Regions from separate parts of the Homo sapiens genome. Here all the other regions are linked to region 1. Evidence: fine-mapped expression QTL. A gene starts in region 1. Each other region holds a variant in brackets. All regions are shown on one strand. Distances are from middle to middle. Region 1 holds the start of ADA (adenosine deaminase). Region 2 has its middle 9.8 kb from the start of LINC01260. Region 3 holds the start of LINC01260 (long intergenic non-protein coding RNA 1260). Region 4 overlaps TOX2 (TOX high mobility group box family member 2).

What was found. PIP is the estimated chance that this variant, and not a neighbour inherited with it, causes the effect.
Region 2: its variant is fine-mapped to the expression of ADA in adrenal gland (GTEx, PIP 0.91).
Region 3: its variant is fine-mapped to the expression of ADA in whole blood (TOPMed, PIP above 0.99).
Region 4: its variant is fine-mapped to the expression of ADA in whole blood (TOPMed, PIP above 0.99).

The regions. Positions count from the first base shown.
Region 1 is chr20:44,648,839-44,653,985 of GRCh38, forward strand. ADA (adenosine deaminase) reads right to left here and starts at 2,861. Exons shown (of 12, transcript NM_000022.4): 1 at 2,737-2,861. The coding sequence starts at 2,769. RefSeq lists enhancers at 2,310-2,419, 2,650-3,633 and a silencer at 2,670-3,059.
Region 2 is chr20:44,678,980-44,684,126 of GRCh38, forward strand. No RefSeq gene overlaps it. Among named protein-coding and RNA genes, the nearest start is that of LINC01260, 9.8 kb to the left of the region's middle. RefSeq lists a silencer at 4,608-4,667. The variant G/A (reference allele first, on the strand shown) is at 2,118.
Region 3 is chr20:44,670,108-44,675,254 of GRCh38, forward strand. LINC01260 (long intergenic non-protein coding RNA 1260) reads right to left here and starts at 1,632. Exons shown (of 5, transcript NR_034104.1): 1 at 1,532-1,632. RefSeq lists enhancers at 371-872, 873-1,372. The variant T/C (reference allele first, on the strand shown) is at 2,169.
Region 4 is chr20:43,954,891-43,960,037 of GRCh38, forward strand. The region is part of intron 1 of TOX2 (TOX high mobility group box family member 2); the gene reads left to right. Among named protein-coding and RNA genes, the nearest start is that of TOX2, 43 kb to the left of the region's middle. RefSeq lists enhancers at 1-948, 560-609, 1,082-1,716, 4,379-4,673 and a silencer at 4,379-4,673. The variant G/A (reference allele first, on the strand shown) is at 2,761.

The sequences.
Region 1 (5,147 bases):
CCCACACAGAATCACAGTGTGAACATTAAAAGTCAGGCCACTTGAGTGCAGTTTGAAAAGCGCTGCCCTGCTCTGCTTTCTTCTAGCTGACCAGGTCCCAGGCCTCAGCTGGTGGCAGGTATGAGAAGCTGAAGGACACAGCAAAGGCTCCTGTCTCAGGAGGTTTGCACCTGGGGCACTGGCACCTCTATCCCCAAAGGCTTCTGCAGAGGTAGTTTAGGAAAGATGGTTAGAGGCATGGGATTTCGAAGCCAGCCTCCCTTGGACTCAAACCCCAGATTGGACATTTCCTAGCTGTGTGATCTTGGGCCTAGTTAACCTCTCTGTGCCTGGATTAAATAAAAAATGCAGATAATGTGTTTAGAACGGTGCCTGGCACAGAAACATCAACACTCCATTAGCTGCAGCTAGTAATGCTAATAATTATAACTGTCATCTGTCCCTCCCACAAGAGGGCAGGGAGCTGGCTCTGGTCACAGTGGCTCTGAGATTCACACTCCTTCCCACTTCTCCTGCCAGCTCACACAAGTTCCTCCTCACAATCATACAAGATTTGTCACGCCTCAAACACATGGCAGGTAACATTCTACCTTCACTCTCAAGCATCACCTTGTGGCCTTGGGACTCAGGACACGGGACACCCACATAAGCAGCTGATGTTCCATCCTCCAGGTGTGGACACTGAGGTCCCAATAGGGAAAATGATCTGCCAGCTTGAATCAGATGGGAGGACTGAGCAAGGCCAAAAAATGGGGATAATAATATGAGCCCCTCCCTTGATGGGCTGTTACAGAAGAACTGCAAGGATCCAATGGGTGTCTGCAACAAGTGCTCTAGAAGTGGGCCCTGCTGTTCTCTCCATAACTCCCAACATGTTCGCAATCAAGGAGCCTTTTTTTTTTTTTTTTTTTTTTTGAGACAGCGTCTCACTCTGTCACCCAGGCTGGAGTGCAATGGCGAGATCTCGGCTCACTGCAAGCTCCACCTCCTGGGTTTATGCCATTCTCCTGCCTCAGCCTTCTGCGTAGCTGGGACTACAGGCGCCCGCCACCATGCCCAGCTAATTTTTTATATTTTTAGTAGAAATGGGGTTTTGCCATGTTGGCCAGGCTGGTCTCGAACTCCTGGCCTCATGATCCACCCACCTTTGCCTCCCAAAGTGCTGGGATTATAGGCGTGAGCCACTGCACCCCGCCAATCAAAGAGCTTTGCTATTGCCATAGGATTCACATCAGGGTACAGTGGGTCCCCAGCCCAAGGGCAGAGGGAGCCCAGAGCATTTAATAAAAAGACTGCAAAGGGGAGGCGCCAATCATGGGCCCCAGCTCCAGTAAGACGTGAAGGAGGCAGGGGTGGGGGTAGGAGGGCTTGTACAGCACCTCAGTGCTTCCAGCTTCTGACGGGGAGTAGCTGAGCATTTTCCCTGGGCTGGGGGCATCAGTAGTGGGGGCCAGGCCTCACCCTCCTCAGAAGGTAGGTGGGCTCTCCACAGCCTGTCTCCCTCACTGACACATGCACACTCACTGGATTCTCACCGGCACTTTTGTGATAGCTGTCATCATCATTCACACCTATTTCTTTTCTTTTCTTTTTCTTCTCTTTTTTTTGAGACAGGGTCTCGCTCTGTCTCCCAGGCTGAAGTGCAGTGGCACCATCACACCTCACTGCAGCCTCAACCTCCTGGGCTCAAGCGATCCTCCCGCCTCAGCCTCCTGAGTAGCTGGGACTACGGGAGTGCACCACCACACACACTTCCCCTAACTTTTTTTATTTTTTGGAGAGACGGGGTCTAGTTTTGTTGTCCAGGCTAGTCTCAAACTCCTGGACTCAAATGATCCTCCCGCCTCAGCCTCACAAAGTGCTGGGATTACAGGCGTGAGCCAACCTCCTGGGCCACTCACACCTATTTCTTAGAAGGGTAAGTTGAGGCTGACTGCAGCTGACTCCTTCCCCAACCACTCTCACACCCTACTGGCTGACTCACCCTGCTTGGCAGACTCCTGGGCCCCTCCTCTCGGACTCTGCGACAGGCCAAGGGGGTCCAGACCCTCCCTGACCCCAACAGTCCCAAGACGCCACAGCTGGTGGGCGGAGAAACAAGGGGATTCTCCCCTGGGGCCAGTGGCCATGGCTTGGCCTCGAGTGAACCCTGCTAGGGCCCCAAACCCAGGGCCTACCTAGCTCCTGTTCTTCCCGCGCGGGGGAAGGGGGGTGCTCTGCTCCCCTCCCTCCCCTTTCTGGCAGGGCTCACGGTTCTTCCCCGGGGCGCATCCACAAACCTGAGCTCCTTGGCGCTCACCACCATAACGCTGGCGTACAAAGCTGCTTCCATTCACTGAGCACTCAGTAGGCGCCGGGCACAGCACTAGGTGCCTATCCGGCGTAGACATCGGGCCTGATCATACAGCTGAGCTTCAGAGACCTCAAGTCCCTGCCCAGGCCCACACAGCGCTCAGCGGTGCTAGGATGCCCACTTGACAGACAGCGAAACTGAGACCCAGAGGGGTCAAGTCAGGGGCAGAAGCAGACTCTGGAGGCCTCCGGGTTCTGGACCTTCTCTGCCCCATTGTCCCTGATTAGCCCGCAAGCAAGCCACGGCCTAAGCCGAAGGAAGAACTCGCCTGCAGGAGCCCCCGTTCGTTCCCAGGGTTTGGACGCCCCGGGCTGGGCCCCGCTAAGCCCCTCGGGCCGCCCAGGCGCCGGACCCCCGTCCCCGGAGCCCCCGCGCGCGCTCACTTTGGGCTTGTCGAAGGCGGGCGTCTGGGCCATGGTGCCCTCGTGCGCCCCGGCGCTGCTCCCTCCGCCGCCGCTCGGTGGGTCTCTGCCGGCTCGGTGGCCGCTCGGCTTTCCCTGGGGCCAGCGGTGGCCGCGGCCGGCCACGCTCTTCTTAACGGGCCGGGCCCCGCCTCCCGCCCCGCCCGCCGCCGTTCCCGGGGCCCGCCCTCTCGCCGGAGCCCCCGCCCCGCCCGCCGGCCTGGATCGCGCATTTCCTGGAATTCTGGACCCGGCGTCCTCGCCCGCCGACCCGAAAACTACGGCCCCGCGGCGCCCGACCGGACCCACCTGTGGGCGCGCGCTCCAGCCGCCTCGCTGGGCGCTGCCTTCCCCCCGGCTCCTCCAGCAACTTTCAAGCGTCCCCCTGCAGTCTGGGCGCTGCTGTGCGCCAGGCCCAAGCTAGAAGCGGGGACCCCGGGAGCATCGCAAGCCTCGAGCGGCGTGCCTTCCACCGGATAGACGGACGCTCGTCGCAGAAACACACACCATAATTGTATAGTTAAGGAACTTTCGAGGGGGGCCAGCCGTGGCCTGCAGAACCTGCAGGAGTTCATCAGGGGTGGGTGGGGGTGGAGAGGACATTCTACGTGAGAGACTCCAGGGAGCTGGGAGTGAAAGGAGGCGAGGAAGGCTGGAGCTCGGAGGGAGGGAGAACACAGACAGTCCCCTCCTGGGCATTCACCTTTAAGAAACCCGCCCAGGCGCAGCCAGAGACCTGTGCAGAATGTTCACACCAGCGCTATTCCGAATAACAGGAACATTGGAAACACCCTCAAATGCCCCTCCACGGGCGAGTGGGCAAATAAACCGGAATATTCACACCATGAAACGTTAGACAGCAGTGAAACGGAATGAACTTCAGCCAGACAACAACAGAAACAATGTCTCAGAAACAATGTTGAGTGAAAAAAACTAAGTTGCGGAAAACTGCATACAATGGTGCAACTTTTAGAATGTGTAAAAGCAAAACCAAAAGTATGTATGTTTAGACACATGCATCGGTGGAAAAAATGTAAAGCAAGGGAAAGATGAGCATAGATACGAGAAGAGTGGTTATCTCAGGTGAAAGGGAAGGAGCCGGGAGGAGGTAAGGACGGAGGGAAATAACACGCGGGTACAGGTTATTTATTTATTTATTTATTTATTTATTTATTTATTTATTTATTTACTGAGACGGAGTTTCGCTCTTTCGCGGAGGCTGCAGTGAAGTGGCGCGATCTGGGCTCACTGCAACCTCTGCCCCTCTGGCCCGCCTCCTCCCCACCGCTCCCCCGCACCCCCAGCGTTTCAAGCGATTTTCCTGTCTCAGCCTCCCGAGTAGCTGGGATTATAGGCGCCCACAACCACGCCTGGCTAATTTTTGTTTTTTGTTTTTTTGTTTTTGTTTTTGTTTTTTTGAGATGGACTCTTGCTCTGTCGCCCAGGCTGGAGTGCAGTGGCGAAATCTCGGCTCACTGCAACCTCCACCTCCTGGATTTTAAGCAGTTCTCGGCCTCAGCGTCCCGAGTAGCTGGGATTACAGGCGCGTGGCACCGTGCCCTGCTAAGTTTTGGATTTGTAGTAGAGACGGGGTTTCACCATGTTGGCCAGGCTGGTCTCGAACACCTGACCTCACATGATCCACCCACCTCGGCTTCCCAAGGCGTGATTACAGGCATGAGCCACCACGCCTGGCCACACACAGGTTATTGATAATGTTCCAGTACTGGGGTGGATGGTAGCTTCATTTCATTTCATCATAAATAAATTAACAAACCCATAAACAAGGGGGAAAGAGAGAGTGGGAGAGTGGAGAGCAAGGGGCTAGAAGGTCTGATGGGAGCTGAATCCTGCCAGGGATGTGGGACCCAGCGATGGTGTGGGATTCCTAGGAAGTCAGTGGAGTGTTTTAAGTGGAGGCGAGACAAAATCACCCTTTTATTTGGAAAAAATATTCTCCAGCTACTGAAAGTGTGATCCAGGGATCATCAGCACCCACATCACCTGGGAGCTGACTACAAATGCAGACTTTCAGACCCCATCCCAGACCTACTGAAGTAGAATCTGTATTTTATACAAACAGGACCCCCAGGTGGTTCGCACCCACAGGGCACTTTGAGAAGCCTGGGCTCCCTGCTGTGAGGGGAGGGCATTACAGGGGGCCAGCGGGGGTGAGGGAGGACAGGATACCAGGAAGGAGGCAACTGCCATGGTCTGGGTAGGGCATAGTGATGTCAGTGGGGGAAGTGGAGAAACTCATATTCAAGCTGCATTTAGGGTGTAAAATCAGCTGGATTTGGGGTTTGGTTGTATGTGGGAGTGAGGGAGAGGGTGGCTGTATTAGTCCATTATTTTCATGCTACTGATGAAGACATACCCGAGCCTGGGCGCAG
Region 2 (5,147 bases), 30 kb after region 1:
CTATGTTGAACATCTTTGTCTGTGCATCTTTGTGCACACGTATTATTATTTCTGTGCGGTAAAGTTGGGAAGTCTCGGAGGCTACTTGGTGGACAGGATTGAGAGCTGCCTTGGAGAGGCCTGAGTCAGATCTGTTTGCCAGATCAGCCTCCACTGGGTTTCTACTGGAGGGGCCATACACAGGGAGATGCAGGGAGAAGGCCTGAGGGAGAGATAGAGAGCCCTGATTGTGAGCTGTGGCTGCCCAGGCCAGATAATGGCAGGGGAGAGAGGAGGCCCCGATCCTGGGCCCCTGTCTGTGCTGTCGGCCTGGTGCGTTAGCTCCTGGTGCCTTCTAAAGAGGCAACAAAAGTACTTCAAATTGAGCATGAGCTTGGGTTCAAATCACACCTCTACCGCTAAAAAACTAAGTGCCGTTGGGCCAGTTACTTAGTCATTCTGAATCTCAGCGTCCTTATCTGTAAAATGGGGAAAATAAGCCAATAGGGTTATTGTGAAAGATACATGAGATTAATGAGTCTTGGCGATAGTCCCTGCTCCCAGTAAATGACGGCGTGCATTTTTATTGTCATCTTGGGTCTCCATCCTTTTTAAAAAAATACTTGATTATAACAGCTTTATTGAGATAAAATTCACATGCCATACAATTCACCCATTTAAAGTGTACAATTCAGGCAGGGTGTGGTGGCTCATGCCTGTAATCCTGGCACTTTGGGAGGCCGAGGCGGGCAGATCACTTGAGGTCAGGAGTTCGAGACCAGCCTGGCCAACATGGTGAAACCCCATCTCTACAAAAAATACACAAATTAGCTGGGCATGGTGGTGGGCGCCTGTAATCCCAGCTACTCGGGAGACTGCGGCAGGAGGATCGCTTGAACCCGGGAGATGGAGGTTGCAGTGAGCCAAGGTCATGCCACTACACTCTAGCCTGGGCAACAGAGCAAGACTCTGTCTCAAAAACAACAACAACAGATAAAGTGTACAATTCAATAGTTTTTTATATATTTGTCACAATCAATTTTGGCACTTTTTCATTATCCCCCACAGAAACCCTGTACCTATCAGCAGTCAGTCCTGCAGCCGACCCCCCTCTGGCCCCAGGTAACTGCCAATTACTTTCTGTCTCTATGGATTTGCTCTTTCTAGATGTTTCATAGAAAAGAAGTCATGCAACATGGGGTCTTTTTTTTTTTCTTTTGAGACAGGGTCTCCTTCTCTTGCCCAGGCTGGAGTGCAACAGTGCAATCACAGCTCACTGCAGCCTCGAACTCCAGGGCTCACATGACCCTCCCTGCTCAGCCTCCCAAGTAGCTGGGACCACAGTGCACCGCCATGCCCAGCAAATTTTTAAAAAATTGTTTGTAGAGATGGGTTCTCCCTATGTTGCCCAGGCTAGTCTAGAACTCCTGGGCTCAAGTGATCCTCCCACCCTGGCCTCCCAAAGTGCTGGGATTACAGGCATGAGCCAGTGCGTCCAGGCCTGTGGTCTTTTATGACTGGCTTTGTTCACTTTTTTCATCCCTGTCAGCAATGTATGAGAGTTCTGATTTCTCTGATTCCTTACCAACACTTATTATTGTTTGTCTTTTTTATTGTAGCCATCCTCGTGGGGGTGTGTAGTGGGATCTCATTGTGGCTTTGATTTGCATGGCCTTGACGGTTAATGTTTCTGGTTTTTTTCAGTGGAATCCCCTTTATAAATTCTGGGACACCCTATTCCCAGTGTGGAAACACTAACCTGTTCCAAAGAAAGAAAAAAAATTCTAGATGGAAAAAGATGTTCATTACTGCGACATAACATTTCTTAATACAAGTGACTCGTCTATAGCAGTAGGTAGTTCCTAATTTTTTTTTTTTTTTGAGACAGAGTCTTACTTTGTCACAGGCTGGAGTGCAGTGGCATGATCTCAGCTCACTGCAACCTCTGCCTCCCGGGTTCAAGTGATTCTCCTCCCTCAGCCTCCCAAGTAGCTGGGACTACAGGAACATACCACCACTCCCGGCTAATTTTTGTATTTTTAGTAGAGATGGGGTTTCACAATGTGGAAACACTAGGCCACATTGTGAAATGTGGCCAGGATGGCCTCCATCTCCTGACCTCATGATCTGCCCACCTC[G/A]GCCTCCCAAAGTGCTGGGATTACAGGCGTGAGCCACCGCGCCTGGCCTATTATCTTTAATAATTATAAATACTGGGCTGGGCGTGGTGGCTCATGCCTGTAATCTCAGCACTTTGGGAAGCCAAGGTGGGCAGATCACTGGAGGTCAGGAGTTCAAGACCAGCCTGGCCAACATGGTGAAAACTCATCTCTATTAAAAATACAAAAATTACCCTGTCATGGTGGTGCATGCCTGTAATCCCAGCTACTCAGAAGGCTTAGGCAGGACAATCGCTTAAACCTGGGAGGCGGAGGTTGCAGTGAGCCGAGATTGAGCCACTGCACTCCGGCCCAGGCGAGAGAGTCAGACTCCATCTCAAAATAATAATAATAATTATAATAACTATAAAGACCAGCTATCATATGGAAAATGTCCCTGATGTGTGAACAAATGCAGGATGGAAAAATACTCAGTGTAGTCATTTTAGCTAATATATATTTGTTAAAACATCCAAATATTTTTTTCGAGCTCGGCGCTGTGTGCCAAGCTCCATGCTGGCTCATGGACAAAGTCAGGAAAAGAACAAGCAAAAATGAAATTCCTTCTTGTGTCGGGAGTGGTGGGGTTTTGGGGGACAGGTATCTCCCCTTCCCCATGTTTTCTTCTCAAACTTCCTCCACTGTTGTTATATTACCTTTGCAGTGATAAAACCAAGAGAACAGAAGAAATACTTCTGGACCTAAGGATGAAAGAATGATGGGAGAAACATTTCTTGAGCCAGTCCCTTTCTGCGTTCTTATTTTGTGGAATCCGCACACATCCCCGAGAAGCTTAATAAAAAGGGCTACTATCATGACACTTACTGTGTGCCTTGCCGGTTCCACCTGTTAGGTGCCATTGTTGTCCCCATTTTACAGATGAGGAAACTGAGGCGGGGCAAGGAGATGCCCTTCTGCTTGGTGGTCTATCCTTCAGCATTACCCACACACATGCAGAGCTACATATAAGCTCACGTTCACACTCGGATTCACGTCTGCACCCATGGGCACATGGAGGATCGCACAAGCCACACTCAGACACACATGTGTGCTCACACACAGGGCTGCCCATGTCCACAGGTATGTGCATGGGGACACGCATGTATATATGTGCATATTCCCATATGCACACAGCACAGGTCAAACACTTTTGGACACACATCTGCCTGAGAATGGGAAAAGGGGTGCAAGATAAAGGGGCAAAGTCTGGCTTTTGCCTCCTCCCTGCACCTGCTACCAGCTGTGTGCAGGACTGGGTGGGGCAGAAATAGGTGGCTCTGAGCTCAGAGGGCAGAGGTGGCCTTGCACTAGAAATCCACCTGCCAAACTTCCAAATGGGCTACAGCGACTAAGGGGCCTCACCTGCTGGGCAAATCCCCCAGCTGGAGGGTGTGCTCCAGATCCTCCAGGGGTCCCCAGGGGGTTGAGAAGATGAGGGGCACACCCAGCAGCCCCTAAGGGAGGAAGCGTGGCCATACTGGCTAAGGGGGCGCACTCTTCTTGCAGGCCGCCTGATCAGATGCCTGTAAAATAAGACAGCTTTACAAAGAGGGTGTCGGAATGTGAGGAGGCAGAGGGACAGGCATGAGTAGAAAGACCTTCCTCAGGACCTGAAGTCCAATGATCCTGGTCCTGCGTCCCACTAGCTAGGTGATATTGAACAAGTCACATAACCTCTTTGAACCTCAATTTCCTCATTTGTAAACTTTGCACAAATCATTTCTTTGACTGCTAAACAAGTATGTTTTGAGGACCAACGACATGCCAGGTACGGTGCTGGGCACTGGGAAAACAGCAGCAAGCAACACAGACATGGGCTTGCCGTGTAGAGCCTGCAGAATTAGGGAAAGGATAAATGGAAACATCTCACACATAGTAAGTGCTCAGTTACGTTCCTCCTGGTCTCTCTTTTCTACCATTGTAAAGGCGATGCAATAACATAGAAAGTTGGGAGAATGGGGTGGCGGTTGCTGAGGGGGGAACTCTGTCATCCAGAATCCCACCACCCCAACACAATGACTAGCTTCATTTTTGCCAATTTCATCAGCTCATGCAGGGGTTGACCTGCTGTAGGGCACTCAAAATATTCAAACCAATTAATGCATTGCATTTGTGATCAGAAGAAAAAAGCTAATTACAATGTAACAGATTTACCTGATGCAAAGCAACGCAAGCATGGCCATCCCTCTGCATATATGGAAGCTTTTCCTTTTGGGGGAAACAGCAATATTTCCATTTTACGGAAAAAGAAATGGAGGCACAGAGAGGTCAAGGCACTTGCCCAAGGTCACACAGACAGAAATGCGAAGAGCAGCTCCAGAGGCCAGAACTCCTGCCCATCCTGTCCAGGACTGTGGGATGCATCCAGGGACGGACACTGGGGCTGTGGGCTGGATGACTTGGCTGCCTTTGCATTGATTGGAGCTGTTTAGGGAACCTACCCCAGCCACTAGCATCCAGTCCTAGAGACACAGAAAATTCACTGGCCAGCCTCACTTTTGAGCCCAGAAACCCCTTACCCTTCCTCCTGCCTCTTGAGAGGCCAGTGTTAGGTGTTAGCCGGGGTGCAAAGCTCTGGAAGGCAGGTTTCTGCTTTCTGCTGCCCTCCAGTGGGCAAAGAAAGCAAACCTCTGGATCCATCTGGAAGCAGGTAGCAGGTGTTGCCCAAGTCAGCTGCGGCTAATAGTAATAATAATGGCTGCCGCTCAATGAGCACTTACCACGTGCAGACGTTTTTACACCTAATCTAATGTAACCTAACCCCTTTAAGCAATTTAATTAACATTTAATTCCTCTCTCAAGGTAGGAATCACTTCCTATATACCCATTTACATACATAATCTGAGACTTAGAAAAATGACTTCCCAAAGTCACAAAGCTGGTCAGTGGCAGAGCCGAGAGTGCAAGTCCTTGGAGATCAGAGGAGGAAGAGACCATGATCCTGGACCAGGAGACAGCCCTGCATTCTTGGGCACAGAGGTGAATTTACTGTGAGGCTGGTGACGCATCAGG
Region 3 (5,147 bases), 21 kb after region 1:
AAAAGATTTTTTTGTTTACCTTTTGAGTAAACTGCTGCTAAAAAAAAAAAAAAGGAGAAAAGAAACGGGGGAGAGGGAGAGACATTCTGTTGGTCTCAAGTTGTCTTTTTCAGGTCTTTTGTGTCAGGCCTCTGAGCCCAAGCTAAGCCGTCATATCCCCTGTGACCTGCATGTATACATCCAGATGGCCTGAAGCAACTGAAGATCCACAAAAGAAGTGAAAATAGCCTTAACTGATGACCTTTCACCATTGTGATTTGTTTCTGCCCCACCCTAACTGATCAATGTACTTTATAATCTCCCCCCACTTAAGAAAGTTCTTTGTAATCTCCCCCACCCTTAAGAAAGTTCTTTGTAATTCTCCCCACCCTTGAGAATGTACTTTGTGAGATCCACCCGCTGCCCACAAAACATTGCTCCTAACTCCACTGCCTATCCCAAAACCTGTAAGAACTAATGATAATCCCACCACCCTTTGCTGACTCTCTTTTCGGACTCAGCCCGCCTGCATCCAGGTGAAATAAACAGCCTTGTTGCTCACACAAAGCCTGTTTGGTGGTCTCTTCACACAGATGCGTGTGACATTTGGTGCTGAAGACCCGGGTCAGAGGGACTCCTTCGGGAGACCAGTCCCCTGTCCTCACCCTCACTCCGTGAAGAGATCCACTTACGACCTCGGGTCCTCAGATCAACCAGCCCAAGGAACATCTCACCAATTTCAAATTGGGTAAGTGGTCTTTTCACTCTCTTCTCCAGCCTCTCTTGCTACCCTTCAATCTCTCTGTCCTTCCAATTCCAGTTCTTTTTCCTCTCCAGTAGAGACAAAGGAGACACATTTTATCCGTGAACCCAAAACTCCAGGGCCGGTCACAGACTCAGGAAGACAGTCTTCCCTTGCCATTTAATCACTGCGGGGACGCCTGCCTGATTATTCACCCACATTCCATTGGTGTCCGATCACCGCAGGGACGCCTGCTTTGGTCATTCACCCACATTCCCTTGGTGGCAAGTCAATTGCGGGGACGCCTGCTTTGGCTGCTCACCCACATTGCAGCCCAGGGCTGCTCCCCACCCCCTTCTCCATATCTCTACCCTTCTCTTTAAACTTGCCTCCTTCACTATGGGCAAACTTCCACCCTCCATTCCTCCTTCTTCTCCCTTAGCCTATGTTCTCAAGAACTTAAAACCTCTTCAACTCTCACCTGACCTAAAATCTAAGCATCTTATTTTCTTCTGCAACACCACTTGGCCCCAATACAAACTAACAATGGTTCTAAATGGCCAGAAAATGGCACTTTTCATTTCTCCGTCCTACAAGACCTAGATAATTTTTGTTGAAAAATGGGCAAATGGTCTGAGGTGTCTTACGTCCAGGCATTTTTCACACTTCGTTCCCTCCCTAGTCTCTGTTCCCAATGCGACTCGTCCCAAATCCTCCTTCTTTCCCTCCCACCTGTCCCTTCAGTCCCAACCCCAAGCGTCGCTGAGTCTTGTGAATCTTCCTTTTCTACTGAACCATCTGACGTCTCACCTTCTTCCCAGACTGCTCCTCCTCAGCTCGCTCCCCACCAGGCTGAATCAGCCTCCAACTCTTCTTCAGCCTCTGCTCCCACATCCTATAACCCTTCTATTACCCGCCCTCCCCACACCCAGTCTGGTTTTCAGTTTCGTTCTGCGGCTAGCTCTCCCCCACCTGCCCAACAATTTCCTCTTAGAGAGGTGGCTGGAGCTGAAGGCATAGTCAGGGTACATGTGCCTTTTTCTCTATCAGACCTTTCCCAAATCAGCCAGCATTTAGGCTCTTTCTCATCAGACCCCACTAAATATATACAGGAATCCCGATATCTAACTCTGTCCTACAGTTTAACCTGGAGTGACTGAAATGTCATCCTGACTTCTACCCTCTCCCCAGATGAACGGGAAAGAGTTTTTTCTCTAGCCCAATCTCACGCTGATAACCGCCGGCTTCATGAACCTGACCTCCAGGAAGGCAGTAGAGCAGTTCCCCGAGAGGACCCCCAATGGAACTATCAGGCAGATTCCCCAGGTATGGCTAGGCGAGATTACATGGTTTCCTGCCTAGTTGAAGGGCTTAAAAAGGCAGCTTACAAAGCTGTTAATTATGACAAACTTAGAGAAACTACCCAAGGTAAAGACGAAAACCCAGC[T/C]CAGTTCATGGCCCGCTCGGCAGCAACCCTTACACACTTTACCGCCCTAGACCCAGAGGGGCCAGAAGGCCGCCTTATTCTTAATATGCATTTTATCACCCAGCTCCTGACATTAGAAAAAAGCTTTAAAAATTGGAATCCGGCCCTCAAACCCCACAACACGAATTAATCAACCTCCCCTTCAAAGTGTACAATAATACAGAGGAGGTAGCCAGGCAGCAACGCATTTCTGAGTTACAGCTGCTCGCCTCCGCTGTAAGACAGCCCACAACCACGTCTCCAGCATACAAGAACTTCAGAACATCCAAGCCACAGCTCCCAGGGGCTCCTTCAAAACATCCTCGTGGACCTTGCTTCAAATGCTAAAAGCCTGGCCACTGGGCCTCAGAATGCCCGCAGCCCGGGATTCCTCCTAAGCCGTGCCCTGTCTGTGCGGGCCCCCGCTGGAGGTCGGACTGTCCGACTCACATCACTGCCACTCCTAAAGCCCCTGGAGCCCAAACCCTATGTTCCTTGGCCGACTCCTTCCCAGATCTCCTCGGCTTAGCAGCTGAAGACTGACGTAGCCCGATCGCCTCAGAAGCCTCCTGGACCATCACAGACGCTGAGCTTCGGGTAACTCTTAAAGTGGAGGGTAAGTCCATCCCGTTTAATCGATATGGGGGCTACCCACTCCACATTATCTTCTTTTCAAGGGCCTGTTTCCCTCGCCCCCATAACTGTTGTGGGTATTGATGGCCAAGCTTCAAAACCCCTTAAAACTCCCCCACTCTGGTGCCAACTTGGACAACGTTCTTTTATGCACTCTTTTTCAGTTATCCCCACCTGCCCAGCTTCCTTATTAGGCTGAGACATTTTAACCAAATTATCTGCTTCCCTGATTATTCCTGTACTACAGCCACATCTCATTGCCCCCTTCTTCCCAACCCAAAGCCTCCTTTGGGTCTTCCTCTCATATCCCCCGACCTTAACCCACAAATATGGGACACCTCCACTCCCTCCCTGGCAACCAATCACATGCCCATTACTATCCCATTAAAACCTAATCACGCTTACCCCACTCAATGCCAGTATCACATCCCACAACAGGCTTTAAGGGGATTAAATCCTGTTATCACTTGCCTGCTACAGCATGGGCTTCTAAAACCTATAAACTCTCCTTACAATTCTCCCATTTTACCTGTTCAAAAACCGGACAAGTCTTACAGGTTAGTTCAGGATCTGTGCCTTATCAACCAAATTGTTTTGCCTATCCACCCTGTGGTGCCCAACCCGTACGCTCTTTTGTCCTCAATATCTTCCTCCACAACTCACTATTCCATTCTTGATCTTTAAAATGCTTTTTTTCACTATTCTCCTACACCCCTTGTCCCAGCCTCTCTTTGCTTTTACCTGGACCGATCCTGACACCCATCAGTCCCAGCAGCTTACCTGGGCTGTACTGCCGCAAGGCTTCAGGGCCAGCCCTCATTACTTCAGCCAAGCTCTTTCTTATGATTTACTTTCTTTCCACCCCTCTGCTTCTTGCCTTATTCAATATATTGATGACCTTCTACTTTGTAGCCCCTCCTTTGAATCTTCTCAACAAGACACCCTCCTGCTCCTTCAACATTTATTCTCCAAGGGATATTGGGTATCCCTGTCCAAAGCTCAAATTTCTTCTCCATCCATTACCTACCTCAGCATAATTCTTCATAACAACACATGCGCTCTCCCTGCGGATCGTGTCCGACTGATCTCTCAAACCCCAGGCCCTTCTACAAAACAACAACTCCTTTACTTCCTGGGCGTGGTTGGATACTTTTGTCTTTGGATACCTGGTTTTGCCATCCTAACAAAACCATTGTATAAACTCACAAAAGGAAACCTAGCTGACTCCATAGATTCTCAATCCTTTCCCCACTCCTCTTTCTGTTCCTTGAAGACAGTTTTAGAGACTGCTCCCACACTAGCTCTCCCTGGCTCATCTCAACCCTTTTCATTACACGCAGCCGAAGTGTAGGGCTGTGCAGTTGGAATTCGTACACAAGGACTGGGACCGCACCCTATAGGCTTTTTGTCCAAACAACTTGACCTTACTGTTTTAGGCTGGCTATCATGTCTCCATGCGGTGGCCGCTGCTGCCCTAATACTTTTGGAGGCCCTCAAAATCACAAACTATGCTCAACTCACTCTCTACAGTTCTTATAACTTCCAAAATCTATTTTCTTCCTCACACCTGACACATATACTGTCTGCTCCCCGGCTCCTTCAGCTGTACTCACTCTTTGTTGAGTCTCCCACAGTTACCATTGTTCCTGGCCCGGACTTCAATCCAGCCTCCCACATTATTCCTGATACCACACGTGACCCCCATGACTGTATCTCTATGATACACCTGACATTCACTCTATTTCCCCACATTTCCTTCTTTCCTGTTCCTCACCCTGATCACACCTGGTATATTGATGGCAGTTCCACTAGGCCTAATCGCCACACACCAGCAAAGGCAGGCTATGCTATAGTATCTTCCACATCTATCATTGAGGCTACCACTCTGCCCACCTCCACTACCTCTCAGCAAGCTGAACTCATTGCCTTAACTCGAGCCCTCACTCTTGCAAAGGAACTACGCACTACGCATCAATATTTATACTGACTCTAAATATGCCTTCCATATCCTGCACCACCATGGTGTTAAATGGGCTGAAAGAGGTTTCCTCACTACGCAAGGGTCCTCCATCATTATTGCCTCTTTAATAAAAACTCTTCTCAAGGCCGCTTTACTTCCAAAGGAAACTGGAGTCATACACTGCAAGGGCCACCAAAAGGCATCAGATCCCATCGTTCAGGGCAACGCTTATGCTGATAAGGTAGCTAAAGAAAGAGCTAGCATTCCAACTTCTGTCCCTCACAGACAGTTTTTCTCCTCCTCATGGGTCACTCCCACCTACTCTCCTGCTGAAACTTCCACCTATCAATATCTTCCCACACAAGGCA
Region 4 (5,147 bases), 690 kb before region 1:
TTCTTCCTATGTAAAATGGGCATACAGAGGGACAGCCTTCTAGCACGTGACTCCTGGTGCTTGATTCGCTTGAAACTGCCTTATCTACAATCCAAAAAGCCCTGCGACGAGAAGTTGTTTTGTCAATATGCTGCAAACTCATTTGGCCCCCAAAATCTGACCTGAGCTGACGCGAGGCTCTTTGTAATCTTTACTCACCCCACTTGTGTGAATATTCATATGTTCCACTGCAGAAATATGAATGTGTTCCATTGCAGGTGTTGCCTGAGGCTCCACTGAAGCTATGGCATAATTTGCAGAATTTGCACTTCATTACTTTTCTGAAATTCAAACAAATTCTGAAACTGCACGAGTTCTGGCTGAGAGCTGTGGATCTGTGCATGTGAGTAGCTGCTGAAAACCCTCCTGGGTCACAGGAGGGCCCATGGGGGCCTCTGGCAGCCATCGCAGAGCCTGAAACCCGTTGTTTCCCCTTGGCTGGCTTCTGGTTTCTTGGCAGCCAGTGTCTTCTTAGCCACCTGGGGTTATGTTGGGTTTTGCTGGTTCAGGGGCAGGGGTTAAAGCTTAGGGCAGGGTGAGCCGAGGTACTCAGACATTTCTGATGTGAATTTAAAAGGAGAATTTTTTTTTAATGAATCATCAGAAGAAAGAAATCAGAAGGAAGTGTGTGACCAAGGAGAGGAAATTAGGGTTTGCAAATTGCATGAGTCACCCCCTTTCTGACTCCTGGGTGATCCCTTGCCCTTGGCACTTTTCACTCATCTCTGAGACTCTCAAGGCCGTATTCTGCATAACATGCTGGGGCTGTCATGGTTTTATTCTGGCTCCAAACCTGCTTCTCATTCTAGCCATCAGTATAAATTTCTAGTTTTGAATCACTGCCACGCTGTTTTACTTATTATTGTGTTAGCCAGTGTTTCTTCCCTGCCCAAGCCCTGCTCAGACTCCCGTTTCCCCATCTTAGTTAGCATCTACAACCCATTCTCCACCCAGAAGCCAGAGGCCAGTTTCTGAAGTGCAGCCCACATTCCGGGTTTCAGTCTCATCTCCCCAGTGTGGCCCTTGAAGCTCCCTTGTGATAAGGCCCTGCTTGCCTTTCTGTCTTATCTTGCACCGCCTTACTATTCCATGAATGGGCCCTTCCCTCCAGCTCCCAGGCTTTGGCAAATGCTGTTCCCACTGGCCTCTGCCCTCGCCTGGCTAGTTGTGTGCATGCTGCGGGTAGATCTGCTTAGAAGCCACCTCTTCCGTGAAGTCTTTTTACAAGGCCCTTGTCTAGGCCCCACGAACCTGGCTTCCCATCTACTTATCACCCACCCATATTCTGATTCCTGGTCCTGTCCCCTTCCCTAGACCATGAGCTCCGGGACAAAGACTGTGTGTCCACCAGGTGCAGTGGCTCAGGCCTGTAATCAGTCCTAGCACTTTGGGAGGCTGAGGTGGGTGGATCACCTGAGGTCAGGAGTTCGAGACCAGCCTGGCCAACATGATGAAACCCCATCTCTACTAAAGATACAAAAATTAGTTGGGCATGGTGGCGCATGCCTGTAATTCCAGCTACTCAGGAGGCTGAGGCAGGAGAATCGCTTGAACCCAGGAGGCCGAGGTTGCAGTGAGCTGAGATCATGCCACTGCACTCCAGCCTGGGTGAGAGTAAGGTTCTATCTTTAAAAAAAAAAAAAAAAAAAAAAGACTGTTTTCTGTATATCACTTTACCATCCCCAGCACTCAGAGTAAAAGGCTGTTTTAAGCAAGACTGTTTTAAGCCCTTGAGTGCTCGTCCCCTGCCTCTGGCTAGCTGTGTCTGCCTAAGAGTGGCCACCATATTGTCTTCCATTAGGCTGGAACCCGTTTCCCATGTCCGCAGTGGTGTGAAATATCCCAGTTGCATTGCAGTAAGTTTATTTTATGTGCATTTCCCCACTTGCCATTGAATCAGGTGTCCCTTTTTTCCCTTCCATATTTGTTTCTTAAGATATCGCCTCTTGTGTGACTTTTGTTTGAATCCCATGTCTTTTTGTCTGTTGGCATCTTGCTTTCTGTTTAATGTGACTGAGCCATTTCTACCTTGTATATATTAACTGTCTTATAGTTGGTGCTGATATTTTCTTAGTCTGATGTCCTTTTCATTTTGGTTTTATTATGTTTTCTTCCACAGAAGATATTAATGCATATATATTTGAATCTGTCAATCTCTCTTCCTCTGTGATTGCTTCGAGGGCTGAAGAAGTTATCCTGCTCCACAGATCTGATAAACATTCTGTTCTGTTTTCTGATTGTTTCCCTGTAACATGACTTTTTATGTTTAACTCTTTAATCCATTCGGAGTGCATGCATTTTGGTTGGTGTCTTGCAGTGGGTATCTAGTTCACTGTTCCTAAATAGGGACAGGATAACCCTCTTGTCCCCATTCTGTTTATTATATAATTAGCCCTTGTCTCTTTGTTTGCAAAAGGGGAGACAAAATATAGTAGCTGTTATAAGCGTGAGCTTTAGCAGAATTAAGATTTTGGCTTTGCCACTTTCTGTGTGAGCTATGAGCACGTTGCTTAAATTGGGCTTGTTTTTTCCTCTGTAAAACTGGATGATATCTTCCTCCTAGGACCGTTGTCAAGATTGAGCAGAAGATCATGTGCAAAGCACATCACATGTTACCTGGCATAAAGTAAATGCCCTCTTTTTTTTTTTTTTTTTTTTGGCTTAAACAAATATTTATTTTCTCACAGGGCTAGAGGTCAGAAGTATGAGATCAAGGTGTTG[G/A]CAGGGTTGATTCCATCTGAGGCCTCTGTATTAGTTTGTTCTTACACTTCTATAAAGACATACCTGAGACTGGGTAATTTATGAAGAGGTTTATTTGGCTCACGATTCTGTGAGCTGTACAAGCTTCTGCTTCTGGGGAGGTCTCAGAAAACTTACAACCGTGGCAGAAGGTGAAAGGGTGGCAGGTACACTTCACATGGCCAGCAGGAGAGACAGAGCAAGTGGGGAAGCGTTACACACTTTCAAACAACCAGATCTCATGAGAACTCACTATCACGAGAACAGCAAGGGGGATATCCGCCCCCAAGATCCAATTACCTCACCATGTCCCTCCTCCAAAATTGGGCATTACAATTCGACATGAGACTTGGGTGGGGACATAGAGCTAAATCATATCAGCCTCTCTCCTAGGCTTGCAGGTGGACAGCTTCCCCTTGTGTCTTTACGTGGTCTTCCCTCTGAAATGCCCTCCTTAATCTTGATACGTTTCCATACCTAGTTGGGTCCAACATTGTACTTTTCCTTCTGTTTCATTGATTTTAGAATTCTTGTTTTCTGTTACTGCCACACTGCTTTAATTGTGGCTTCACGGAATGTTTCACTCTCTGGCCAGATTGGGCATCCTTCCATTACTCTTTCTTTAAGAATATTGCTTTAAACACGCACCTGTTTTCTTTAGTGGATGTTGATTTTCTCTCTCACATTCTGTACTGTAGCCTACCTCAGTGACTTCTAGACACCCCTTCTTCCCCTTCCCCAGCACACATACCGGTTTTCCCCCAACCTGGCTGCCCAGCCTTTGCTCACTCTGGACCCACTACCTCACAGGTATGTACCAACTGCTCTCACCTGGCCTATCTCCACCTTAGTGCTTTATCACCCCCCTCCAGGTGCCATTATGCAGATACCCATTTTCCCTATGGACCTGAGCTTCCCTGGGAATTGGTTCTAGGTCCCTAGTGCCCCTCTGCACCTGGCATATGGCCAGGTACATTGTAGGTGCTGAGGTCAGGGCTTGGGGAAGACAGGAATGTTCACCGTGCCCTTGGGCTTTTGACAGTAACTGGGCTAAATCTGGCTTCTTCTGGAGGTGCAGGCTTACAGGACTCAACAATTTGGTGGTTGTAACCCTGGACATGCTCTTGCCAATAACGGTGGGCCATCCATCAGCCCTGGCCTTGGTTTCCCCAGTGGGATTTGCAGAAGCCAGAGGATTAAAGCCCTCCCAGCCCTGAGGCCTCATTATTTATCTTAGTGGGTCCACAGTGAAGATGAATTAGAATAACTCATTGGCACATGCCATGCCTTGGAGTGCAGTTTTCTGTTTTCTGGGAGAGAAAAGGCCTCTTAGGACAGAGCCCCCCACTGCCCTCCTGGGTCTCCAGGAGACAGCCCAGATCTGGGTCAGAAGGGTTCAATAGTCAAGAACAGAGGGGTGGCTCTCTGCCTGGGAAGGCAACTGGGGTGAAAGCGGGGAGCTGGCCTTTCTCTGCATACTGCTAGGTAGCATGCAAAACCCTGCCTGTTCCATTCCTGTTCTCCAGGGGAGGAATCTGAGGACGAGAGGGGTAAGATCCCTGCCCACTGCCATGCAGCAGCTTAGTGCAGAGCCTGGACTTGAACCTAGATCTGCCTGCTTCCAGAGCTGTGCTGCACCAGTGTTCTCGCAGCTCCCAGTCCAAAGGCCGACGTTGAGACAGCGCTTAAAAATATATCAGCAGTGTTTACAAATACCATTTCCTGTGTTATCTGGTACTGACAGAAGGAAGTGAACCTGGCACTTTGTCTGTGTTAGGTTTGGGGTTAGAGGCATAAGTGCCAAGTTCAGATGACCTAGAAAAACCTTTCTAGGTCAAATTACAATTTCAAAGATTTCTTTTCTTCTTCTTTTTGAACCGCTCCAAGATCGAACGCTGTCGTTGACATATTTCCCTTCCGACAACACGAGCCTTTTGTGGCATGATTGAGGGCTTGTTTTGTAGTGCTGGGGAGAAAATATCTTCCACATCATCTGCTCATTGTCTCAGTCACACTCGTTCCCCCCACACCACAGTGCAACCCGACGTACGCTCATGCGGCTTTTAGTTAATTGCCTTTGGTAAGAATCAGTTTTGGGACTTGTTCCCAACTGCTTGGATGATAGATAATTGTCAAATACAAATATTGGCAGCGCAGGGCAACCTGAGGCTCTAGACTGCTGACTGCATCCCAGCCTCTAGGGAGAGCTGGGAGCTGGCCAGCTCCATGTTATGGGAGGTAACGGGGCAAGACCTGGCAGGAGTACAGCCTTCTCATTAGAGTGTAGGCTCTGGAGTTGAACTTCCTGGGTTTGAATCTTCATTCCACCCCTTCCTAGCTGTGTGGCCTTGGGCAAGCTACATAACCTC